Homo sapiens: one gene and its partners. The protein of the gene in region 2 interacts with the protein of the main gene of each other region in a biochemical or structural test. Each region holds a gene or a part of one and is shown on either strand. Other genes may lie near its edges.

The links.
Region 1: the proteins of NTMT1 (region 2) and RCC1 interact in a biophysical measurement, tested with the Homo sapiens proteins (one study listed by BioGRID and IntAct).
Region 3: of the proteins of NTMT1 (region 2) and DDB2, one has a biochemical effect on the other in vitro, tested with the Homo sapiens proteins (one study listed by BioGRID).

The regions. Positions count from the first base shown.
Region 1 is NC_000001.11:28,508,684-28,516,316, reverse strand, and holds part of RCC1 (regulator of chromosome condensation), read right to left. Parts: exon of another isoform or gene 7,555-7,633; intron 7,488-7,554; 5' UTR 7,412-7,487; exon of another isoform or gene 5,425-7,411; intron 1-5,424. UniProt on the Homo sapiens protein: Guanine-nucleotide releasing factor that promotes the exchange of Ran-bound GDP by GTP, and thereby plays an important role in RAN-mediated functions in nuclear import and mitosis.
Region 2 is NC_000009.12:129,629,163-129,636,795, reverse strand, and holds the end of NTMT1 (N-terminal Xaa-Pro-Lys N-methyltransferase 1), read right to left. Parts: intron 4,147-7,633; 5' UTR 4,093-4,146; coding exon 3,931-4,092; intron 2,743-3,930; coding exon 2,490-2,742; intron 2,192-2,489; exon of another isoform or gene 1,589-2,191; coding exon 1,332-1,588; 3' UTR 661-1,331; downstream 1-660. UniProt on the Homo sapiens protein: Distributive alpha-N-methyltransferase that methylates the N-terminus of target proteins containing the N-terminal motif [Ala/Gly/Pro/Ser]-Pro-Lys when the initiator Met is cleaved.
Region 3 is NC_000011.10:47,217,504-47,225,136, forward strand, and holds part of DDB2 (DNA damage-binding protein 2), read left to right. Parts: intron 1-7,633.

The DNA of each region.
Region 1 (7,633 bases), on a different chromosome or scaffold from region 2:
TGGTCTTGAATTCCTGATCTCATGAGCCACCCACCTCATCCTCCCAAAGTGCTGGGCTTACAGGCGTGAGCCTCCGCGCCCAGCCTTAATTTTTGTACTTTTAGTAGAGATGGGGTTTCTCCATGTTGGCCAGGCTGATCTCGAACTCCTGACCCGCCCAGGCTAGAGTGCAATGGCACGATTTCAGCTCACTGCAACCTCTTCCTCCTGGGTTCAAGCAATTCTCCTGCTTCAGCCTCCTGAGTAGCTGGGATTACAGGCGCCTGCCACCATGCCCAGCTAATTTTTGTATTTTTAGTAGAGACGGGGTTTTACCATGTTGGCCAGCCTGGACTTGAACTCCTAAACGTCAGGTGATCCACCCGCCTCAGCCTACCAAAGTGCTGGGATTACAGGCGTGAGCCACCGCGCCTGGCCATTTTGTGTATTTTTAGTAGAGACCGGGTTTCACCATTTTTGCCAGGCTGGTCTGGAACTCCCGACCTCAGGTGACCTGCCCATCTTGGCCTCCCAAAGTGCTGGGATTACAGGCATGAGCAACTGCACCTGGCCTTTATTTTTATTTTTTTAGTTTTGTATTTGTATTTTTTATTTTATTTTGAGATGGAGTCTCATTCTGTTGCCCAGGCTGGAGTGCAGTGGTGCAATCTCGGCTCACTGCAACCTCTGCCCCCTGGGTTCAAGCAATTTTCCTGCCTCAGTCTCCAGAGTAGCTGGGATTACAGACACGCACCACCATGCCCGGCTCATTTTTGTATTTTTAATAGAGACAGGGTTTCACCATGTTGGCCAGGCCGGTCTTGAGCTCTTGACCTCAAGTGATCCACCCATCTCGGCCTCCCAAAGTGCTGGGATTACACGTGTGAACTACTGCGCCCAGCCCCAGTTGTTTGTCTCAAGAGTCTCACTCTGTCATCCAGGCTGGAGTGCAGTGGCAGGATCTCGGCTCACTGCAACCTCTGCCTCAGCCTCCCGAGTAGCTGGGACCACAGATGTGCACCACCATGCCCAGCTAATTTTTTTTTTTGAGACGGAGTCTCACTCTGTTGCCTAGGCTGGAGTGTAATGGCGTGATCTCAGTTCACTGCAATCTCTGCCTCCTGGGTTCAAGCAATTCTCCTGTTTCAGCCTCCCGAGTAGCTGGGATTACAGGCGTGCACCACCACGTCCAGCTAATTGCCCATCTAATTTTTGTATTTTTGGTAGAGACAGGGTTTCACTATGTTGGCCAGGCTGGTCTTGAACTTCTGAGCCTCAGCAGTCAGCCTGCCTTGGCATCCCAAAGTGTTGGAATTACAGGAGTGAGCCATCGCAACTGGCTGATATGGAGGTTCTGGCTGTAATAATGTACTGTGGGTTTTATAACATATATAAAAGTAAGACACATGACAATATCAAAGACTATATAGTGAGAAATGGAAGAAATATTTATTTATTTTTTCGAGACGGAGTCTCGCTCTGACCTCGTGATCTGCCTGCCTTGGCTTCCCAAAGTGCTGGGATGGATTACAGGCGTGAGCCACTGTGCCCAGCCGGAAGATTGTTTTTTTTTTTTGAGATGGAGTTTTGCTCTTGTTGCCCAGGCTGGAGTGCAATGGCATGATCTCGGCTCACTGCAACCTCTGCCTCCCAGGTTCAAGCAATTCTCCTGCCTCAGCATCCCGAGTTGCTGGGATTATAGGCATGTGCCACCATGCCCGGCTAATTTTGTATTTTTAGTAGAGACGGGGTTTCTCCATGTTGGTCAGGCTGGTCTTGTACTCCCGACCTCAGGTGATCCGCCAGTCTCAGCCTCCCAAAGTGCTGGGATTACAAGTGTGAGCCACCACACCAGGCCGCCAGAAGGTTTTTTTTTTGTTTTTTTTTTGAGACGGAGTCTCGCTCTGTCGCCCAGGCTGGAGTGCAGTGGCGCGATCTTGGCTCACTGCAAGCTCCACCTCCTGGGTTCATGCCATTCTCCTGCCTCAGCCTCCCTAGTAGCTGGGACTACAGGCACCCGCCACCACGCCCGGCTAATTTTTTGTATTTTTAGTAGAGATGGGGTTTCACCGTGTTAGCCAAGACGGTCTTGATCTCCTGATCTCGTGATCCGCCCGCCTCGGCCTCCCAAAATGCTGGGATAACAGGCGTGAGCCACCGGGCCCCGCCTTTTTTTTTTTTGAGACGGAGTCTTGCTCTGTTGCCTAGGCTGGCACGATCTCAGCTCACTGCAACCTCTGCTTCCAGGTTCAAGCAATCTTCTGCCTCAGCCTCCCAAGTAGCTGAGACTACAGGCGAGCACCACCACACCTGGCTAATTTTTTTTTTTTTGTATTTTTAGTAGAGGCGGGGTTTCACCATATTGGCCAGGCTGGGGAAGATTCTTATACTACAAGTGAACTGGTTTAATATCAATTGAATGTGGACTATTGTAAGTTAAAAATGTATAATATGGCTGGGCATGGTGACTCATGCCTGTATTCCTAGCACTTTGGGAGGCCAAGGTGGGAGGATTGCTTGAGCCCTGGAGGTCAAGACCAGCTGGGACAACATCATGAGACCTTGTCTCTACAAAAAATACAAAATTTAGCCAGCCATAGTGGCACATGCCTGTGGTCTTCACTACTCAGGAGACCGAGCTGGGAGGATGGCTTGAGCCCAGGAGTTCCAGTTTAAGGCTGCAGTGAGTCATAATCTTGCCACTGAACTCTGGCCTGGGTGACAGAGTGAGACCCTGTCTTAAAAAAAAAAAGTAAATAGCCTAAACACTCCAATTAAAAGACATAGACTGTCATACTGAAAAACCCAACATGTTACCTACAAGAAATAAAATTTTAAAATAAGGCCAGGCACGGTGGCTCATGCCTGTAATTCTAGCACTTTGGGAGGTCAGGGCAGGCGGACTGCCTGAGCTCAGGAGTTTGAGACCAGCCTGGGCAACATGGTGAAACCCCATCTCTACTAAAATACAAAAAAATTAGCCAGGCATGGTGGTGCATGCTGTAGTACCAGCTGCTCCAGAGGCTGAGGCATGAAAATTGCTTGAACCTGGGAGGCAGAGGTTGCAGTGAGCTGAGATCGCATCACTGCACTTCAGCCGCGCAAACCCCATCTCTACTAAAAATACAAAAAAATTAGCTGGGCGTGGTGGTGCGTGACTGTAATTCCAGCTACTCCGGAGGCAGAAGTTGCAGTGAGCTGAGATTGTGCCACTGCACTCTGGCTTTGGCAACAGAGTGAGACTCTTGTCTAAAAAAAAAAAAGAGGCTGGGCGCGGTGGCTCACACCTGTAATCCCAGCACTTTGGGAGGCCGAGGCGGGTGGATCACAAGGTCAGGAGATTGAGACCATGGTGAAACCCCATCTCTACAAAAAATTAGCAGGGCATGGTGGCAGGCACCTGTAGTCCCAGCTGCTGGGGACGCTGAGGCAGGAGAATGGTGTGAACCCAGGAGGCGGAGCTTGCAGTGAGCCAAGATTGTGCCACTGCACTCCAGCCTTTGGAGACGCAGTCTCCAAAAAAAAAGAAACTAGCAAGGATAGATTTGAACAACACTAATACAACAACAATAATACACTTTCAAGTAGCCCATAGATCAAAGAATAGAAAAGGAACTCAAAAATATTTTGAAATGAATTAAAATGAAAACAAAACATACCAGAATTTGTGTGTTGTTAACAGTATCTGGAGGAAATTTATAGCACTAAATGCCTACATTAGAAAAAAAGAAAGGTCTCCAATCAATGAGCTCAGCTACTAGCTTAAGAAACTAGGAATAGATGAGCAAACTAACCCCAAAATAAGCAAAGAAAATAATAAAGATAAAAACAAATCAATAAAAAAGAACACAGAAAAATTAAATCAGCCAGTGCTTGCTATATGGCAGGCACAGTACAAGAATAAGTACTGAGTTTACATATGCAGTCTCTTGAGGATCCTCCAAGTAGGTTAGATGGACATAAAATGGAAAATAACCAGATCAGAATACTAATGACCAGGAAGAATGATCAAGGTGCCAGCCTGCCTTCAAGAGCCAGTGAGGCCATTGTGGATCCTTAGGGAAAGGGGAGGTGAGGATAGTGGTTAAGAGATCAAGGCTCTGCCGGGCGTGGTGGATCACCTGAGGTCAGGAGTTTTGAGACCAGCCTGGCCAACATGGCGAAACCCTGTCTCTACTGAAAAAAAAAACACAAAAATTAGCCGGGTGCGGTGCAGGCGCTTGTAATCCCAGCTACTTGGGAGGTTGAGGCAGGAGAATCGCTTGAACCCAGGAAGCAGAGGTAGCAGTGAGCTGAGATCACGCCACTGCACTCCAGCCTGGGAGGCAAAGACTCCATCTCAAAAAAAAAAAAAAAAAAAAGGATCAGGCTTGAGGCTAGGCGCAGTGGCTTACGCCTGTAATCCCAACACTTTGGGATGCTGAGGCAGGTGGATCACTTGAGGTCAGGAGTTCGAGACCAGCCTGGCTAACATGGTGAAACCCGTCTCTACTAAAAAATGCAAAAAAAATTAGCCGGGCATGGTGGCGTGCGCCTGTAATCCCAGCTACTTGGGAGGCTGAGGTGGGAGAATTGCTGGAACCCGGGAGGTGGAGGTTGCAGCAAGCCAAGATGGCTCCATTGCACTCCCTCCTGGAGACAGAGTGAGATTAGATCTCAAAAAAAAAAAAGCTGGGCATGGTGGCTGACGCCTGTAAACCCAGCACTTTGGGAGGCCGAGGTGGGCGGATCACGAGGTCAGGAGATGGAGACCTTCCTGGCTAACATGGTGAAACCCCTTCTCTACTAAAAATACAAAAAAATTAGCCGGGTGTGGCGGCGTGCACCTGTAGTCCCAGCTGCTGGGGAGGCTGAGCTTGCAGTGAGCTGAGATTGTGCCACTGCACTCCAGCCTGGGCGACAGAGCGAGACTCCCTCTCAAAAAAAAAAAAAAACAAAAAACAAAAAATTGGATACTGTATCCTTGGTTTCTGAGAAGTCACAAAAGAATGTTATTTAATAAGTGATCATGCTGCTGCACTCCATCTAGAGACCCTAAGAATCTTTTCACAAATACCAACTCCTTTGTCCTTATTACAACTCTATGAGGTAGTTTATCACTTATTTTGTGAACATGAAATTGAGGCAGAGGGGCTGAGTAACTCACCCAAAGTCTCATGAACAGCAAGTGGTGGGATCAGGATTCAAACCCAGTCTAGTACTCCTAAGATAGGCAACCAATACTGTCTGCCTACACAAAGAACAAGGCCAGAAGTGCCTGTTTGGAAAGTCTAAAAAAGGGGTATTGCAAGCTGAAGTTTAGCAGAGTGGGACCTGAACACCTACTGACAGCTTTGCTTCACCTCTACCTTGCAAGTCAATAGAAATTCATTCATTTCCTGCCCAGCACTGCAGTTACCCAAACCCACCTGAGTATATGGATTGAAAACATACTAAAACCACTGGTTCAGAAAAAAATCACTTTACTCAGGTGAGATCTATGTAGTTACAGCAGGACACGGATGGGACTGGGCATACAGACGAATGGGGCTGACTCATCTGGCTTCTTCCTGAGCAGGGAATTTGATGCTTGTTTCTGCAGAGGTGCCACTTCTAGTTGTGGACTTGGACAATTAGTCTTTTGGTTCCTGGGATTCCCCATTGGAATATGCTGTATTAAAGCCCACTTAGTGCTTACCTAGAACAGTGCCTGGCACAGGTAAGCACAAATACAATTGCTTTAGGAAGATGCCTTTTTTTTGAGACTTAACTCTGTCACCAGGCTGGAGCGCAGTGGCAAGGTCTCAGCTCAGTACAACCTCCATCTCCCGGGTTCCAGCAATTCTGCCTCAGCCTCCCACAGGTGCACACCACCATGCCCAGTTATTTTGTATTTTTAGTACAGACAGGGTTTCACCGCGTTGGCCAGGATCTCTAGATGTTGTGATCCGCCTGCCTTAGCCTAAGTGCTGGGATTACGGGTGTGAGCCACCAAGCCTGGCTGCATTTAACATGCCCTCTTAAACACTGCCTCACTCCTCTTAGCTTGTAAGAAAAATCAAGCTGTGTTCCCCCACAATCATAGCTAGTAACTAGCTTCCATTCTCAAACCAACCCTGACCTCAACACCTTGGCAAGCAAGCTCTACAGTCCACCAAACTCCAATCTCACCCACCTCCCTCAAACCTGTCTCCATCAAGTTCCAAATGGCTTAACGGCTGTCCCACCTCCCCTATGCCAGTAGGTAACTTTACCTTCTAGATGATCCCCCTTCAGTCCCATCCTTCAGGGTACTGAACATTTATGTTGGCAGCCAGTGCAGGGGGCTTGACAAAGTTTCCATTGTGACTCACGTCATGAGGCAAGCAATTCTGGCAATCTTCAGGCGGAGGTGCGCCAGGTAGTAGAGGCTCATACAACTCATCAGCTAGGGATACAACCTCCCGTTGCTACCATCGATTTTTCCTCCACTACACTGCAGGAAGCTAAAGAATCGGTCTAACTCATCTTGCACTCAACCCAGACTTACGGTCCTATTGGTCAGGACCTAATATCCATTTTCCCAATAAACTGCCAATATAAAGTGAACCCAAGGGGGACCCACCTGAGACTAGGTTTCAGGGCCTTTAGAACTGAAGCTATCATGCTAGTTTCCTTCAACAGTACCATTCAGATTCTTGGCTGATGTCACCACAGCCACCTCCACAAAAATGAACCACAAACATGCAGTCGTATTTATTTTAATTCATAAATACATTAACATAGCAGATTAGGCAATTTGTTAGGTAAATTACAAATACATTAGAAATCATACAAAAGTGGCCGGGCAGGGTGGCTCACAGCTGTAATCCCAGCACTTTAGGAGGCTGAGGTGGGCGGATCACGAGGTCAGGAGTTGAGAACAGCCTGGCCAATATGGTGAAACCTCATCTCTACTAAAAATACAAAAATTAGCCAGGTGTGGTGCTACACGCCTGTAGTCGCAGCTACTTGGGAGGCTGAGGCAGGAGAATCGCCTGAACCTGGGAGGCGGAAGTTGCAGTGAGCAAGATCATGAAAAGCAAAATACTCAAGGACTTTTAATATAACCACCAACACAGTGTGCCTTCTGGCCAAGCAGAGTCACTTCTGTGGTTCTTAAAGTATGAATGAGGTGAAAGAATGTGCATTCCTAGCTAAATGCCAAATTCCAAAGCCTTTAGTACAAAAACAGCAGACTTTCTGCAAAACAGGTCGACTTTTAAAAGAGGTATGAGGGCTGGGCGTGGTGGCTTATGTTTGTAATCCCAGCTACTTGGGAGGCTGAGGTTGCAGCCAAGATTGCGCCACTGCACTACAGCCTGGGCGACAGAGCAAGACTCTCAAAAGGAGGCATGAAATGCACCTCAATCTTTTGCTCCAAGTCTGCCAAAGATTGTCAAACCCTCCCTGTTAAAAAAAAAAATCAGTTTACCTACTCTCCCTTCTATATAAAGGACCCTAAAATTAAATGTCAATGCCAAAATGCGAAGTGCAGATCGTCTTCTCTCCTAAAAGAAAAGAAATAATGATTAGACTCCTGAAGATCCTACTTCAACTTAAAATCTAGTATACTAGATATGTTTCCTGCATGGTTTGTCTCCCCAGTCATTGTCCACAGGACTCTGGGAAGCTGTAGGAATATGCAGGCGCAGAC
Region 2 (7,633 bases):
GATGCTGTGTTTGGGGGGTTGTTTCCAAGTCCCTGCAAAGAAGCACCACTCTAGACTGGCAAGGGCCTCCACAGTGTGGAGGTCCCATTTTATTATTTTTTTTTTTCGAGACACTCTGTCACCCAGGCTGGAGTGCAATGGTGCAATCTCGGCTCACTGCGACCTCTGCCTCCCAGGTTCAAGCAGTTCTCCTGCCTCAGCCTCCTGAGTAGCTGGCATTATAGGTGCCCACCACCATGCCTGGCTGATTTTTGTATTTTTAGTAGAGACGGGGTTTCGCCATGTTGGTCAGGCTGGTCTCAAACTCCTGACCTCAGGTGATTCGCCTGCCTCGGCCTTTCAAAGTGCTGGGATTACAGACATGAGCCACTGTGCCCGGCCCCCATTTTATTTTAGTTTTATTTTGAGACAGAGTCTCGCTCTGTCACCTAGGCTGGAGTGCAGTGGCGCAATCTCACCTCACTGCAAGCTCTGCCTCCCGGGCTCACCCCATTCTCCTGCCTCAGCCTCCTGAGTAGCTGGGACTACAGGCGCCCGCCATCACGCCTGGCTAATTTTTTTTTTTTTTGTATTTTAAGTAGAGACGGGGTTTCACCTGTTAGCCAGGATGGTCTCAATCTCCTGACCTCGTGATCTGCCCGCCTCGGCCTCCCAAAGTGCTGGGATTACAGGCGTGAGCCACCGCGCCCAGCCCCATTTTATTTTTTACTTTAAATGCCTGCCAAGGAGCAGCCTCAAGCCCAGAGAAGACTGAGGCTACGGGGAACTTCCCTTGCTGCAGGCTGTTGTAACACTTTAAGGGCCCCAGGTCTCCACTGCCAAGCAGGACTTGGCACATGAGCACCCACCCCACAGCACCATCAGGCAGCACCCATGGGCTCCACCAGCCCAGCTCTGTCCCTCCCCTAGGTAAAGATCACACTGAAGTCTTCAAGTCCCCAGCAACCAAGTTGGGGGTGGTTTCCTTCCTCTTCAGGCAGCCAGGCCCATGGCTGGAAGGCCGGGCTGGAGGCCCAGGGAATCGGTTACTGATGTGGCCACCCTATTCCCACATGGGGAGCACCAGGAGCCCTGGAGCCCCTTCCACCCAATCCCATCTCGCAGGAGAGCAGGGTCTGGGCTCCTGCCTCACCGCTGGTTCAGCAGCACCCTCCCCGCCGGGTCCCACCTTGCCTTTTGAAGAAGAGCCCGCATAATGAGTGGACGGCAGACAGCTATATTTAGTGGTGCCTCGACACTCACGAACCGCCAGCGTGGCGCCTGGATCTTGCCCAGCTGCCAGCTCCCCCCACCAGGACTGTGGTTCCTCAGTTTCTCCTGCCAGCCCCGGCTCATCTCAGGGCAAAGCTATAGACATGGTAGATCTCATCGGGGAGGTTCTCCTGCCTCTCCTCGGCCAGGAGGCTGAGGCCTGCACTGCAGATGATCCTGCGGACCACGTCAAGGTCCCGGCACACGCTGCTGTCCACGTCGTCCAGAATCACGCCCTCCTGGGCCATGTTGTCTTTGATGACGATGATGCCGTTGGGGCGGAGGCTGCCCTTGCAGCGCCGCAGGAACTCGGCCAGGTGCTGATCGGTGAGGTGGCCTGGGGAGGGCAGAGGCAAGGTTACCAGGGCACCATGCAAGCGGATGTCGGCACTGGATGGGATGTACTTCTCAGCCCCGCTGAGCCCCTCATTTGTGCCCAGCATTTTGTGTGCACACATGGCCTCATTGGCTCTCAGTCCCGAGAGATTTACTAAACCCCAATTCATAGAATAGGAAACTGTGGCTCAGAGGTCATCTACCTAAAGACACATTAAGCCAGAATTTGACTTGACGGGATGGCTTACAAGTCCTGCCTGATACCTACACACCATGATGCCCCACCCCTGCCAGGCTTGGATCGGAGGAGTGAACCTGGGCTAAGAGTTTGGCATTGCAGGAGCTCCCAGAGAGACTGCCTTCCCTACACTAGAAGTCCCCACAAAGGCTTCTGAGACCACAAAATACAAGGCCAGACCTAGAGTGTCCACAGCAGGCCTGTGCTGCCCGCCTCAGGAGGTGGCCGACTGCTGCTAGCGGCCTGCCGCCACGTCAGCAGCCCAGGGCACAGCGCTCGAGGTGTGCTGTTAGGCTAAGAGGGTGCAGGGCTAGACACGAAGCTTAAACTATTCATCTTATTAAAAATAAAACCCTTATAAAACTCCTCACTTTGAATGCAGTAAGTTATTGGCCATTAAAATTTTTTCAACAAAAAACTGCACCCAAATGGATGGTAGCAGGTATTCAACTGAAACAAAACCTAGAAGGAAGAAATCTACCTTTTAGGCCGAGCCTGTCCCTCAGTCCTGGGAAGTACGGGGTGGGGGTGGGCCTGGGCGGGGTGGGGAATCCTCACTGGCCCACTTGCTGCAGGAGTGCAAAGCCCTGGTCCTGACACCTTATGGGGAACGCGAGTGGCAGGAGACATACAGGTGAGCAGGGAAGGGCGGTGGAACCCTCACCTATCACCCACTGGATCCAGATCACGTCGTAAGAGTCCGGCTCCGGGGTGAAGTCCTGGAGCCCACAACAGAAGTAGTTCCTCACCCTCTTGCCCTCCTCCCCCAGGTAGGTCTTGGCTTGAACCAGGAAGTCCTCCGTTATGTCGACCATATCCACCTCTCTGAACAGCGGCAGGAGCAGCCGCTTGGTGATCCTCCCAATGCCAGCTCCACAGTCCAGGGCACAGGACGTTCCTGTCTTGTTCGGGCCTTCCTGAAAAGCAGAGGCATATAACCTATCAGAGGGACCCTGTCACCGCACGTGCGGCCCTTCCTCACGAGCCCTAGGACTTAGACTCAAGTCAGGATTCCAGGACTCCGCACAAGCTGAGCACTGGTGGGGAGGTCTGTGCTGGCTGCCAGCTTGTACGGAGTCGAGGGGATGAGCATGGGAGGACACACTGCTGGGCCACACATTCCTTTATCTTTGAAAGTTCAGGTTGCATTCTGCATTCTGTTCAGGTTGGAATGCAGTGGTGGGATCATGGCTCACTGTAGCCTCGAACTCCTGGGCTCAAGCCATCCTCCATCTTCCCACCTCAGCCTCCCAAGTAGCTGGGACTACAGGCATGCGCCACCATGCCCAACTCATTTTTTTTTTTTTGTATTTTTTGTAGAGACGGGGCCTCGGTCTGTTGCCCAGGCTGGTCTCAAACTCCTGGGCTCAAGCAATCCTCTCACCTTGGCATCCCAAGGGGCTGGGATGACAGGAGTGAGCCACTGCCCCTGCCCTGGGCCACACATTTCTAAATGAAAGCTAATTTCCACTTAAAGGTGATAACTTGAACAGGTGCACTAATCTCTCCTGAGTCTCCAGGTAAACAACGGCAGAGAGGAATGGGGAGAATGGAAGCGGGGCAACAGGTGAACAAGGGTGCAGAGAGGGAACATGGAGGGAGGGGAGGCGCTGGATGGAGCAGGTGGCCAACAGCAGCCTCCAGTGCCAGCCATGAGACAAGAAGGTGGGGGGCTCCAGGACTGGGGGTCCCAGCCTGGTACAGAAAAGGCTGGGGGTGGAGCAGAGGGTGGAAACCATGGCACATAACTAGGAGTCTTCGTCCAGAATAGCCAACACCCTCAGTCCAAACACCCGTGGACATGGCAGGAGAGCAAGGGTTTCGTCCCTGGCAAAACCCAACAGTTGAAGAGAGGTTTGCCCAATTCAGGCACCTCAATTCTGCCTAACAGCCAGCTCCTGTCTGGTAACCCTGAGGCTAAGTCCACAATCTAGAAGTTACCCCACTGTGCCCACCCAGCCCAGCTCCTCAAGGCTTTGGGGTAGGTACCAAGAGATAGCCAACAATCCTGCAGTGTTACATGTGTAAAAGGTGGCACCCCACATGGACTCGGCAGTGCCACCAGAGCCACAGCCTCTCCTGGAGAGCACGCCAGACCTGCCTACCCTCAAAAACCTCTGCAGAAACTTCCGGGAGCTGTTGATGTCGATGCTGGAGATGTGGCCATACCCCCCAAGCATGCCGTCCACCGTGGGTGGGATTTGTTTCCAGTAGGTCTTGGCCTTGGAATAGAATTGCTTCTCGTCTTCTATCACCTCGCTCGTCATGCTGTCACCAACCACGGCTCTACTCAAGCACCACGATCAGCAACCGCGACTCTCCTGGGTAAGGAAGGGGGCGTGAGTCAGCGGGCCAGGGACCTGGCAGAAAGGCCCCCAGGGCAGAGGGCCAGTCTCACACCAGGCTTCACAAGTCACACATCCTGCTGAGTGCAGAGAGAAGTCCAGGGTCCCCAAATCTGCTTCTACCCCTTGGATAACAGCATCTTCTGTCTTTTGCACTCAGAGCACCCGCCCCAAGTCCTGGCTTCAAGTTCTTTTACATTTTTATTTTTTCTGGAGTGCAGTGGTGTGATCATAGCTCAATGCAGCCTCCAACTCCCGAGCTCAAGAGACCCTCCCACCTCACCCTCCGGAGCAGCTAGGACTACAGTTGTGTGCCACCATGCCTGGCTAATTATTTTTTGTAGAGATGGGGTCTCACTATGTTACAAAGGTTGGTCTTGAAGTCCTGACCTCAAGAGATTCTCCCACCTTGGCCTCCCAAAGTGCTGGGATTACGGGTGTGAGCCCATGTGCCTGGCCTGGCTTCAAGTTCTTGATATGCTCTATATGACACCTGACTCAGTGGCTTCAGGGCACAGAAAACCCTGATCAATAAAGAGAAACGACCGCAAAGCCGAGAGCACCAGCAGACCCTGGAGGGCCAGGGAAGCTTCCACGCCTCCCTTCCTCTGGCTCAGAGCACAGCAACAACTCACGGTGGGGTCCAGTCCTCCGTTAACAAGGAGTGGGGACTCTGTGCCAGGCACCGGGCTGTGAACCAGGCAGCCAGCCAGGCAGAAAACAATTCTACAGACACAACCACACCTGCAGGGAGGGCTGCAGAGGAGAAGCGCCAGTGCCAGCAGAGCACGGAGGGAGGAAGTGGAGTCGGGTGCGGGGACCAGGGAAGGCATCCCTGAGGAGGGGACGCGTAAGCTGAAACCGATGGATGGGCAAGAATAAGCGCAGTAGGTGGAGGGCGACGGCACTGCTCCTGGAGGGAAGGACAGACAGCCCTCGCGGCTGCCAGTTCCTGGTCTCACAGTCAACTCTAGCAGTTTCGACTGCATCCTACAGAGCAATGAGTCAACCACCCTGAGGCCCAACAGAGAGTGGCCCGGGAAGACCGATGCTTCTGAAGACTGCTGGCGGCGGTGGAGATGGCAGGGGGATGAGGAGACGGTTGCCACGGTAGAAGGAGAGAGAACTAGAAAGCCTCAGCTGGGTCCTGGCAGCAGAGCCCAGGCCCACCTCACCCTTCAGGACAGCGATGACAGTTGGGCGGCTCCGTGCTCCACGGGTGGCCATTCTGCCATAAGCTTCCCAAGGCACAGTGCTGTCACCAAGGCACACCACGCTTAGGGGCTGTTCTAGTTGCTGTGAGGCTTGCCAAGACCTCAGAGAGCTCTAGTCCAGGAGGACAAAGAACAAAGGGAAAGAAAATACACAGCAGAAAAATAAGGATTCTCATGGACCCACAAAGTGTCGAGGACACTCAAAGGGCAGAGGAATCTCCTCCCAACAGCAGATAGGGGCAGCCGCCTGGAGGAGGCAGCCCGAGCTGGGCAGCCAAGCACAGGGAGTGCTGGAGGGGGTGGGGCAGACAGAGGGAGCAGCCGTGGGACAGCATGGGCCATCAGAGGGCGGAGAGTGGAGCGGGGGAAGACTGTGGAAGGTGAGCTCGGAAAGGCAGACGGGGCCTGGATGAGGGTGGCCTCGAGTGCATGCTGGGCACCAACTCTCGGCTGATGTGTTTCCCACACTGCCAAGGCCTAACCTAAAGGAGGCAGAGTGAGAATGGCAGTGGCCGTGCTGAGGACACACAGCAACAGTGGGTGGTAGGAATCCCAGCAGCAGCAGCTGCTACATCCTGATAAACCCATGGTAAAGGGAAAATACCCTCGGTGGAAAACGCGCAGCTGACTGGGAGCTGCAGCTCACCGCCTCGCACGTGCTGCCTCCACACGAGGAGAGCAGGGGGCTTCTAGCAAATGCCTGTCGCCAAAGTTGACAAATCGTAGGTCCAAGACCGTCTGCCTGACTCCTGGAGCTACAGGGTCAACACGGAAGAGTCCACATATGGAACTCGGGTACAGTCCTCAAACACAACTCAAAGCTTAAGACCCAGGAACACTCTAGGGGCTTCAAGAGAAGTGGTCAGAGGGAAACGGGAAAATGCCCTGAGAAGGAGCACGAGGCCTTTGGGAAGCAACTATGAGGAAAGAGAAGGGAAACTAAACACAAGACAAGCTGGAGAATTTTTTCTTCTTTTTTTTTAGAAAGGGTCTCACTGTCGCCAGACTTGAGTACAGCTCAGGTGATCCTCCCATCTCAGCCTCCAGGGTAGCTGGGACTGCAGGCACATACCGCCACACCTGGCTAACTTTTGTATTTTCTGTAGATATGGAGTTTTGCCACGTTGCCCAGGCTGGTCTCAAACACCTGGCTGCAAGCAATCCACCTGCCTCAGCCTCCCAAGGTGTTGGGATTACAGGCAGAAACCACTGCACCCAGCCAAGATTTTTCATTGGTCAAATTTGTTACTGGCCCCAGAACTATATTCTGCACTACTATATTCTGAACCTGTCCTGAAAGAGAAGGAACTTTCCAGAAGCAGTAGGCCCACCCCGCCCAGCCAGCTCAAGAATACTTCTAACAGATGCAACGGGGTTCTTCTTAGATCCGTGATTGGGTCTTCTCACCCTTAGCAGAATCCTTTGGCTGTGCCTAGAGAGAAGCCTGCTTAAACTTCTCTTCAGATTCTTGTTTTTTTGAGATGGGGTCTTACTATGTGGCCCAGGCTGGCCCCAAACTCCTGGGCTCAAGCCATCCTCCCTGCTCAGCCTCCCAAGTAGCTGAGATTACAGGCGCACGCCACTGCACCTGGCTTCCCTCTTCAGATTCTTGAATCCGCTCGCAGACTGACCCCTCACTTTACTGTTCACGCACAAGGGTTTCAGCCACAATGAAGAAAGGCAGCAGTCACTTCACCAATCAGGGAGCCCTTTGGGGTAACAGGCTGGGGAGGACCTTAGTTCTAAATATTGCACATAACACCCTCCCCGCAAGCTGACCACAAAGCTCCCACACTGGTGTCCCAGCACTGGGAACAACACTGCCGGAAGGAGAAAGAAGCCCACGGCTCAGAAACCCCATCTCTGTCAAAAATACACACATTCTAGTAGCTACTAGGGAGACTGAGGTGGGAGGATCACTTGAGCCTGGGAGGTCAAGGCTGCAGTGAGCCATGATCCTGCCTCTGCATTCCAGCCTGGGCAACAGAGTGAGACATTGTGTCAAAAAAAGAAGAAGAAGAATGAATTCTTCTTCCCACCAGACCTGCCAATCCTCAAGACTGCTAGATGTGCCCGGGTAGCTGACAGGAAAAAGGGCCACCAATCTGAATGTCACCATGTAGCTGGGTTTGGTGGCTGCTATGGTCTGATGGCGTAAGGACCAGGTTAGGTGGGCTGCCTGCCCCTCTGCCAGCAGGTACCGGAGCAACCATGTCACAGCCCTCCATCAGTCACTCAAGAGAGGACGG
Region 3 (7,633 bases), on a different chromosome or scaffold from region 2:
ATTTTCAAATACGTAAATGATGATGATATATATTTTTCTAATGCCTGTCCTTAAAATACTAGAAGATATAGACTATTGATCACCCATAGAATTGAAGCCCCTTCTGGGCTGGGCGCAGTGGCTCAGGCCTGTAATCCTAGCACTTTGGGAGGCCAAGGTGGGCTGACCACGAGGTCAAGAGATGGAGACCATCCTGGCCAACATGGTGAAACCCCGTCTCTACTAAAGATACAAAAAATTAGCTGGATGTGGTGGTGTGCGCCTGTAGTCCCAGCTACTTGGGACACTGAGGCAGGAGAATCGCTTGAACCCGGGAGGCGAAGGTTGCAGTGAGCCGAAATCACGCCACTGCACTCCAGCCTGGGCAACAGAGCGAGACTCCATCTCAAAAAAAAAGAATTGAAGCCCCTTCTTACCACATTGACCTCATCTTACGCCATTGTCTTTTCTCACTTCTATGCTGTAGCCACACCAGCTGTTTCTATTCCTGAAACCGGGTCTCTGTAATTGCTGTTCCCTTTGACTGGAGTGCTTTTCCCCCATGGTCTTCTCATGGCTGGCGTCTTCTCTGCAGGTCTTTGCTGATTCTACCTCTTCAAAGAGGCTTTCGCTGGTTGTCCTTACTCATAACGTAGATCCCACTCCTCCACCGTCATTCCCTGTATCATTACCCTGCTTCATGTTTCCCCCAAGTGTTGATGGGTGTCTGAGATCTGATGCTTATTTGTATGTTTGCCCACTGATGGCAGGGACCTTTCCTTTCTGGTTCACCATCCTATTCCCAGTGCCTGGAACAAAGTTTGGCCTAGAGTAGCTGCTTTATATTTGTTGAATGAGTGAGGGGCTTGAAGTGTAATTGAGCAGATGGGATGTATACATACGAGGTAATTAACAATACAGATGCCAAGTGCTACAGAATGTGAAAGAAGGAAGAACCCCTTGTGAATTGGAGTCAATAAAGAAGACTCCATGGATGAGCGAGGAGGAGCAGTATTAGATAAATGGAGAGAAAAGAAGGAAAGACATAGTGTGACTGGGTGAGGTTTGGCACAGAGTTCTTGGGAATGGTCTTTGTTGTGCTAGAGTTTATCATCCATTGCTGAGGGGTGAGTGTGTCGTCCCCTCTAGGACCTTTAGCCAGCCCAGCTGGTGGCTGACATTGGAGGGCTGTGCTGTGAAAAGTGACACTGGGTTTAGAGCAGGAGTCACAAACTTATAGGGCTCCAGAAGCCAGAGTGGAAAAAAAAAAAAAAAGAATGTATGGTGGTAGGGTCAGGGGTAAACTAGAGATGACTGTTGTGCAAAAATGTAGGTCTTTTGATATCAGATGTGATTTTTCTCAAACAAAGACACAAATCCTCATTTTTTAAATGTCATATATCTTGAGTTTTAAAAAAAATTGTAAAATACACGTAACATAAAATGTATCACCTTAACCATTTAAAAGTGTTTTTTTTTTGAGGCGGACTCTCGCTCTGTCACCCAGGCTGGAGTGCAGTGGCGCAATCTTGGCTCACTGCAAGCTCCGCCTCCCGGATTCATGCCATTCTCCTGCCTCAGCCTCCCCAGCAGCTGGGACTGCAGGTGCATGCTGCCACGCCTGGCTAATTTTTGTATTTTTAGTAGAGATGGGGTTTCACCGTGTTAGCCACGATGGTCTCTATCTCCTGACCTTGTGATCTGCCTGCCTCGGCCTCCCAAAGTGCTGGGATTACAGGCGTGAGCCACCGCCCCCAGCCAACTTTTTAAAAAATAATGATAAAATACATATAACATGAAATTTACTTTCGTAACCATTTTAAAGTGCACAGTTCAATGGCGTTGGGTAAATTGTGTAAGCAGTCTCCAGAACTTCATTATTTTTTTTTATTTTTATTTTTTGAGTCTCATTCTGTCACCCAGGCTGGAGTGCAGTGACACAACCATAGCTCACTGCAGCCTCCACCTTCCTGACTCAAGGAATCCTCCGGCTTCAGCCTCCCATGTATCAGGGACTACAGGTACGCACCACCATGCCTGGCTAATTTTTAGAGATGTGGTCTCTCTATATTGCCCAGGCTGGTCTCAAACTACTGGCCTCAAGCAATCCTTCTGTCTTGTCTTCCCAAATTGCTCGGGATTACAGGGCTGAGCCACTGTGCTGGGCCTCTAGAACGTCTTAATATTGGCACTGAATGAAACTAAACACACGTCTCAGCCGAATTCTGCTTCAGTCCACTATTTTTCTAGCTCTGGTTTAAAGGTAGACATGAGGGGGAACCCAGGAGGAGGTCTCTTTATTTATTTATTTGTTTATTTTTTTGAGATGGAGTCTCACTCCGCCGCCCAGGCTGGAGTGCAGTGGCGCAATCTCGGCTCACTGCAAGCTCCGCCTCCCAGGTTCACGCGATTCTCCTGCCTCAGCCTCCGAAGTAGCTGGGACTACTGGTGCCCGCCACCACACCCGGCTACTTTTTTTATATTTTTTAGTGGAGATGGGGTTTCACCGTGTTAGCCATGATGGTCTCGATCTCCTGACCTCGTGATCCGCCCGCCTCGACCTCCCAAAGTGCTGGGATTACAGGCGTGAGCCACTGCACCCAGCCAGCAGGAGGTCTCTTAAGTGGAGGGATTTGGAGAGCAGACCACCAGAAAAGGCCAGGTTAGACAGGTGTGGGAGACTGGAATTCAAAGTGTGAGATGGGTGTTCAAGGAACAAGTGCCAGAAGCCCCCAGAAAGGCAGTCAGAGGAGTGCCGCGGACAGAGTGGGGTAGGTTTCCTGCCCAGCTAAAGAGGCAGGTGACCGCTAATAAGGCAGCTTGAAGTTGAAGTCAGAACCCAGAGCTCAGACAGGAAGAAATTTGTTTTCTTGTTTTCTCCAGGAGTCTAGGACATGGGAATAGAGGAATTTAGCTTATGCCTGGAGATGGGAAGAAGCAGTGTAGGGTATTCTAGGGGAAGAGCTTCCTGACTAACAGGATAATGACAAGTGCTTTGAACTTGTGCCAGACTGAGATTGCTTTTTTTCTTTGTTGCATCACCTTATGACATGCGTGTAACCTTCTTTACAGTGTAAACTTTCTTTACACTGTAATGAAGATTGGTCTAGGCATTGAATTTTGTGGCTTGCATTTGCAGGGAGCTAGGTTGGAGCAGAGGAAGGGTATGGCAGTCTGGAAGAGACCTGTCTGGTTTTACTCCCAGATGCTGACAGCAGAATGCTGATTTGAGACCAGTTACTGGAGGAGCAACAGTGCCTCATTTTGTCACTTCTTTAGTCATCTGACCTTGGCTGTGACCTTTACATTCTTCAGGCCCTTGGCAAGGGAACATGTATTACAGTTTCACAATGAAGATAGCTTAATTTTATTCCTATTATAAAAACAATGTATGGGGCCAGGCGCAGTGGCCCACGCCTGTAATCCCAGCACTTTGGGAGGCCGAGGCGGGTGGATCACCTGAGGTCAGGAGTTCCGAGACCAGCCTGACCAACACATAGTGAAACCCTGTCTCTACTAAAAATACAAAAATTAGCCGGGAGTAGTGGTGCACGTCTGTAGTTCCAGCTACTCAGGAATCTGAGGCAGGAGAATCACTTGAACCTGGGAGGTGGAGGTTGCAGTGAGCTGAGATGGTGCCACTGCACTCCAGCCTGGGCGACACAGTGAGACTCCATCTCTCAAAAAACAAAACAGTGTATTCTTATCATAAAATACAGAGAAAAGTGTAAAAAATAAATTAAATATGATCCAAAATCCCCATTTTCAGCATCCCTCTGTGCATGTGTACACTATTTTTTTTTTTTTCCAAGTCTGAGTCTTGCTCTGTCGCTCAGGCTGGAGTGCAGTGGTGCGATCTCACCTCACTGCAACCTCCGCCTCCTGGGTTCAAGCTATTCTCCTTCCTCAGCCTCCCGAGTAGCTGGGATTACAGGCATGCACCACCACACCAGCTAATTTTTGTTTTGTTTTGTTTTTTTAAGACAGAGTTTCACTCTATTGCCCAGGCTGGAGTGCAGTAGCACGATCTCGGCCCACTGCAACCTCTGCCTCCTGAGTTGAAATGATTCTCCTGCCTCAGCCTCCTGAGTAGCTGGGATTACAGGAGCCTACCACCATGCCCAGCTAATTTTTGTATTTTTAGTAGAGACGGGGTTTCACCGTGTTGGCCAGGCTCGTCTTGAACTCCTGGCCTAAGGTGATCCACCTGCCTTGGCCTCCCAAAGTGCTGGCATTACAGGTGTGAGCCACCGTGCCCAGCCTGAATTTTATATTTTTGGTAGAAACAGGGTTTCACCATATTGGCCAGGCTGGTCTCGAACTCCTGACCTCAAGTGATCCGCCCGCCTCGGCCTCCCAAAATGCTGGGATTACAGGCACGAGCCACTGCACCCGGCCTGGGTTTTTAAAATTATATCTTTATTGAGGTATAGTGGACATAAACTGCAGCTATTTCAAGTGTACAATTTGGCTATTCTCAGCCTATGGGGTAGTCCTACTCCAGAGAAGCAGTAAGAAAAAAAGAATAAATTGTACAATTCCATGAGTTTTGACATATGTGTACAACTGTGAAGCCATCACCACAATTAAAATAACTCCCATTTCCCCACCCTTTGTTGAATATTTGGAGAGTGATAGATAGATGAGTTATCTATGCCCCTTTGTAATCCACCCCTCTCTACCCAATATCTTATTCACTGTAAACTGCTGATCTATTTTTTATTTTTAGAAATTAATTTACATTTTCTAGAACTATATATAAATAGAATCATAGAATATATGGTCTTTTATTTTTGTTCTAGCTTGTTTCAGTATAATTATTTGAAATTTATCTACATTTTTATGTGTAGTTTTTTTTTTCTTTCTGAATAATGGTTCATTGTTTTTTGTTTTAAGACAGGGTCTTGCTGTGTCACCCAGGGATGATCATGGTTCAGCATAGCCTCAACCTCCTCAGCTCAAGCGATTCTCCCACCTCAGCCTCCTGAGTAGCTGGCACTACATGCACAGGCCACCATACCTGGCTAATTTTAAAATTTTGTTATAGAGACAGAGGTCTCACTGTGTTGCACAGGCTGGTTTCAAACTCCTGGCCTCAAGCTATCCTCCTGCCTTAGCCTCCCAAAGTGCCGGGATTATAGGCGTGAGCCCCTGCACCCAGCCACATTGTACTGATATGATACAGTTTATTCATTTACCTGTTCAAGGACATTTGAATTTTTTTCTAGTTTTTGAATGCAACATATAAAGCGACTGTGAACATTCACGTACAAGTATTTGTGTGGATATATGTTTTCATTTTTCTTGGGTAAATACTTAGCAGTGGAATGGCTGGATTATAGAGTAGGAATGTTTTAAAGATACTTTTTAAATGAGAAAAGGTTTTTCTATTTGCCCACATATTGTCATTTCCAGTGCTTTCATTCTTTCATGTGATCCAGATTTCCTTTTGGTAATATTTTCTTTCTGCCTGAAGAAATTCCTTTCATATTTCTTATAATGCAGATTGGTGATAAATACTTTCCACTGTTGTTTATCTAGAAAAGTATTTTGCCTTTATTTTGAGGGAGGATGTTTTTGCTAAGTATAGAATTCTAGGTTCACAGTTTTTAAAATTATTTAACTTTTATTTTTTAATTGGTAAATTAAAATTGTATTTTATTGCATACAATATATTTGTTCACAGTTTTCTCCTGTCAGTACTTTAAAGATGATGTCTAGGCTGGGCGCTGTGGCTTACGCCTGTAATCCCAGCATTTTGGGGGGCCAAGGCAAGTGGATCATTTGCGATCATGAGTTTTAGACCAGCCTGGCTAACATGGTGAAACCCCGCCTCTACTAAAAATACAAAAATTAGCTGGGTGTGGTGGCGCTCACCAGTAATCCCAGCTACCCGGGAGGCTGAGGCATGAGAATCTTGAACCTGGGAGGCAGAGGTTGCAGTGAGCCGAGATGGTGTCACTGCACTCCATTCTGGGTGACAGAGCAAGACTGTGTCTCAAAAATAAATAAATAAGGCTGGGCGCGGTGGCTGACACCTGTAATCCCAGCGCTTTGGGAGGCCGAGGCAGGCGGATCACGAGATCAAGAGATTGAGACCACCCTGGCTAACACGGTGAAACCCTGTCTGTTCTAAAAATACAAAAAAAATTAGCCAGGCGTGGTGGTGGGCGCCTGTAGTCCCAGCTACTTGGGAGGCTGAGGCAGGAGAATGGTGTGAACCCAGGAGGCAGAGCTGGCAGTGAGCCGAGATCGGCCACTTCACTCCAGCCTGGGTGACAGAGCAAGACTCCGTCTAAAATAAATAAATAAATAAAGAATAAAAATAAAGATGATTTCTAGTTGGGCTCAATGGTTCATGCCTGTAATCTCAACACTTTGAGAGGCTGAGGCTGGGGGACCTCTTGAGGCCAGGACTTTAAGACCAGCCTAGGAAACACAGCAAGACCCCATCTCTACAAAAAAATCTTAAAAATTAGCTAGTGGCTTGAACTTGTAGTTCCAGCTGTTCAGGAGGCTGAGGTGGGAGAATTGCTTAAGCCCAGGGGGACAAGGCTTCAGTGAGCTAGGCAAGCCTGGGTGACAGAGCAAGATCCTGTCTCAATTAAAAACAAAACAAAACAAAACATCCTGATGAGAAGTCTGCTACTATCCTTATGTTCCTGTCTATGTAATTTTTCTTCTGGTCGCTTTAAAAATGATTATGATGTGCTTGTGGGGGGATCACTAAGCTTCTTTGATTTATGGATTTTTTTTTTCTTTTGAGACAAAGTCTCACTCTGTCGCCCAGGCTGGTGTGCAGTGCCACAATCTCGGCTCACTGCAACCTCCACCTCCAGGGTTCAAGCGATTCTCCCTGCCTCAGCCTCCCGAGTAGCTGGGATTACAGGTGCCCACCACCTCACCTGGCTAATTTTTGTATTTATTTATTTTTATTTTATTTTTTTAGTAGAGACAGGGTTTCACCATGTTGGCCAGGCTGGTCTTGAACTCCTGACCTCCAGTGATCCGCCCACCTTGGCCTCCTGAAGTGCTGGGATTACAGGCGTGAGCCACCTTGCCCAGCCCATTATTTCTTACAAAGAGTTCAAAATGAAGAAAAAGAACAGTTCTTTTTTTCTTGGGACTGCGATTACATATGGTCCTGCAGGTGGTTGATGCACTGTTCATTTTTGTCTTTTTCCCTGTTTCATTTTGTGCAGTTGTTCACTGATCTTTACTTCTGTAATATCTAACCTTCTGCTGTCAATCCCTCCCTCCCTCCCTCCCTTCGTTCCTTTCTCTCTCTTCTCTTCCTCTTCCTTTTCTCTTCTCTTTCTTGCCTGTGCAGAGCAGGGCTGCTCCATAGGCAAAGTAGCCCAGCGTATTTTTCATTTCAGATACTGTATATCCCCTCTAGAAGTTTAATTTGGATTTTTTTTCATGTCTTCCATTTCTCTCCTCATATTTATTATTTCCTCTTCTTTCTTTTTTGAGATGAGGTCTCACTCTCTCTTCCAGGCTGGAGTGCACTGGCATGAGATCTCAGCTCACTGCAACCTCCACCTCCCAGGTTCAAGCGACCCTTCTGCCTCAGCCTCCTGAGTAGCTGGGATTACAAGTGTGCACCACCACGCCCAGCTAATTTTTGTATTTTTAGTAGAGACCAAGTTTC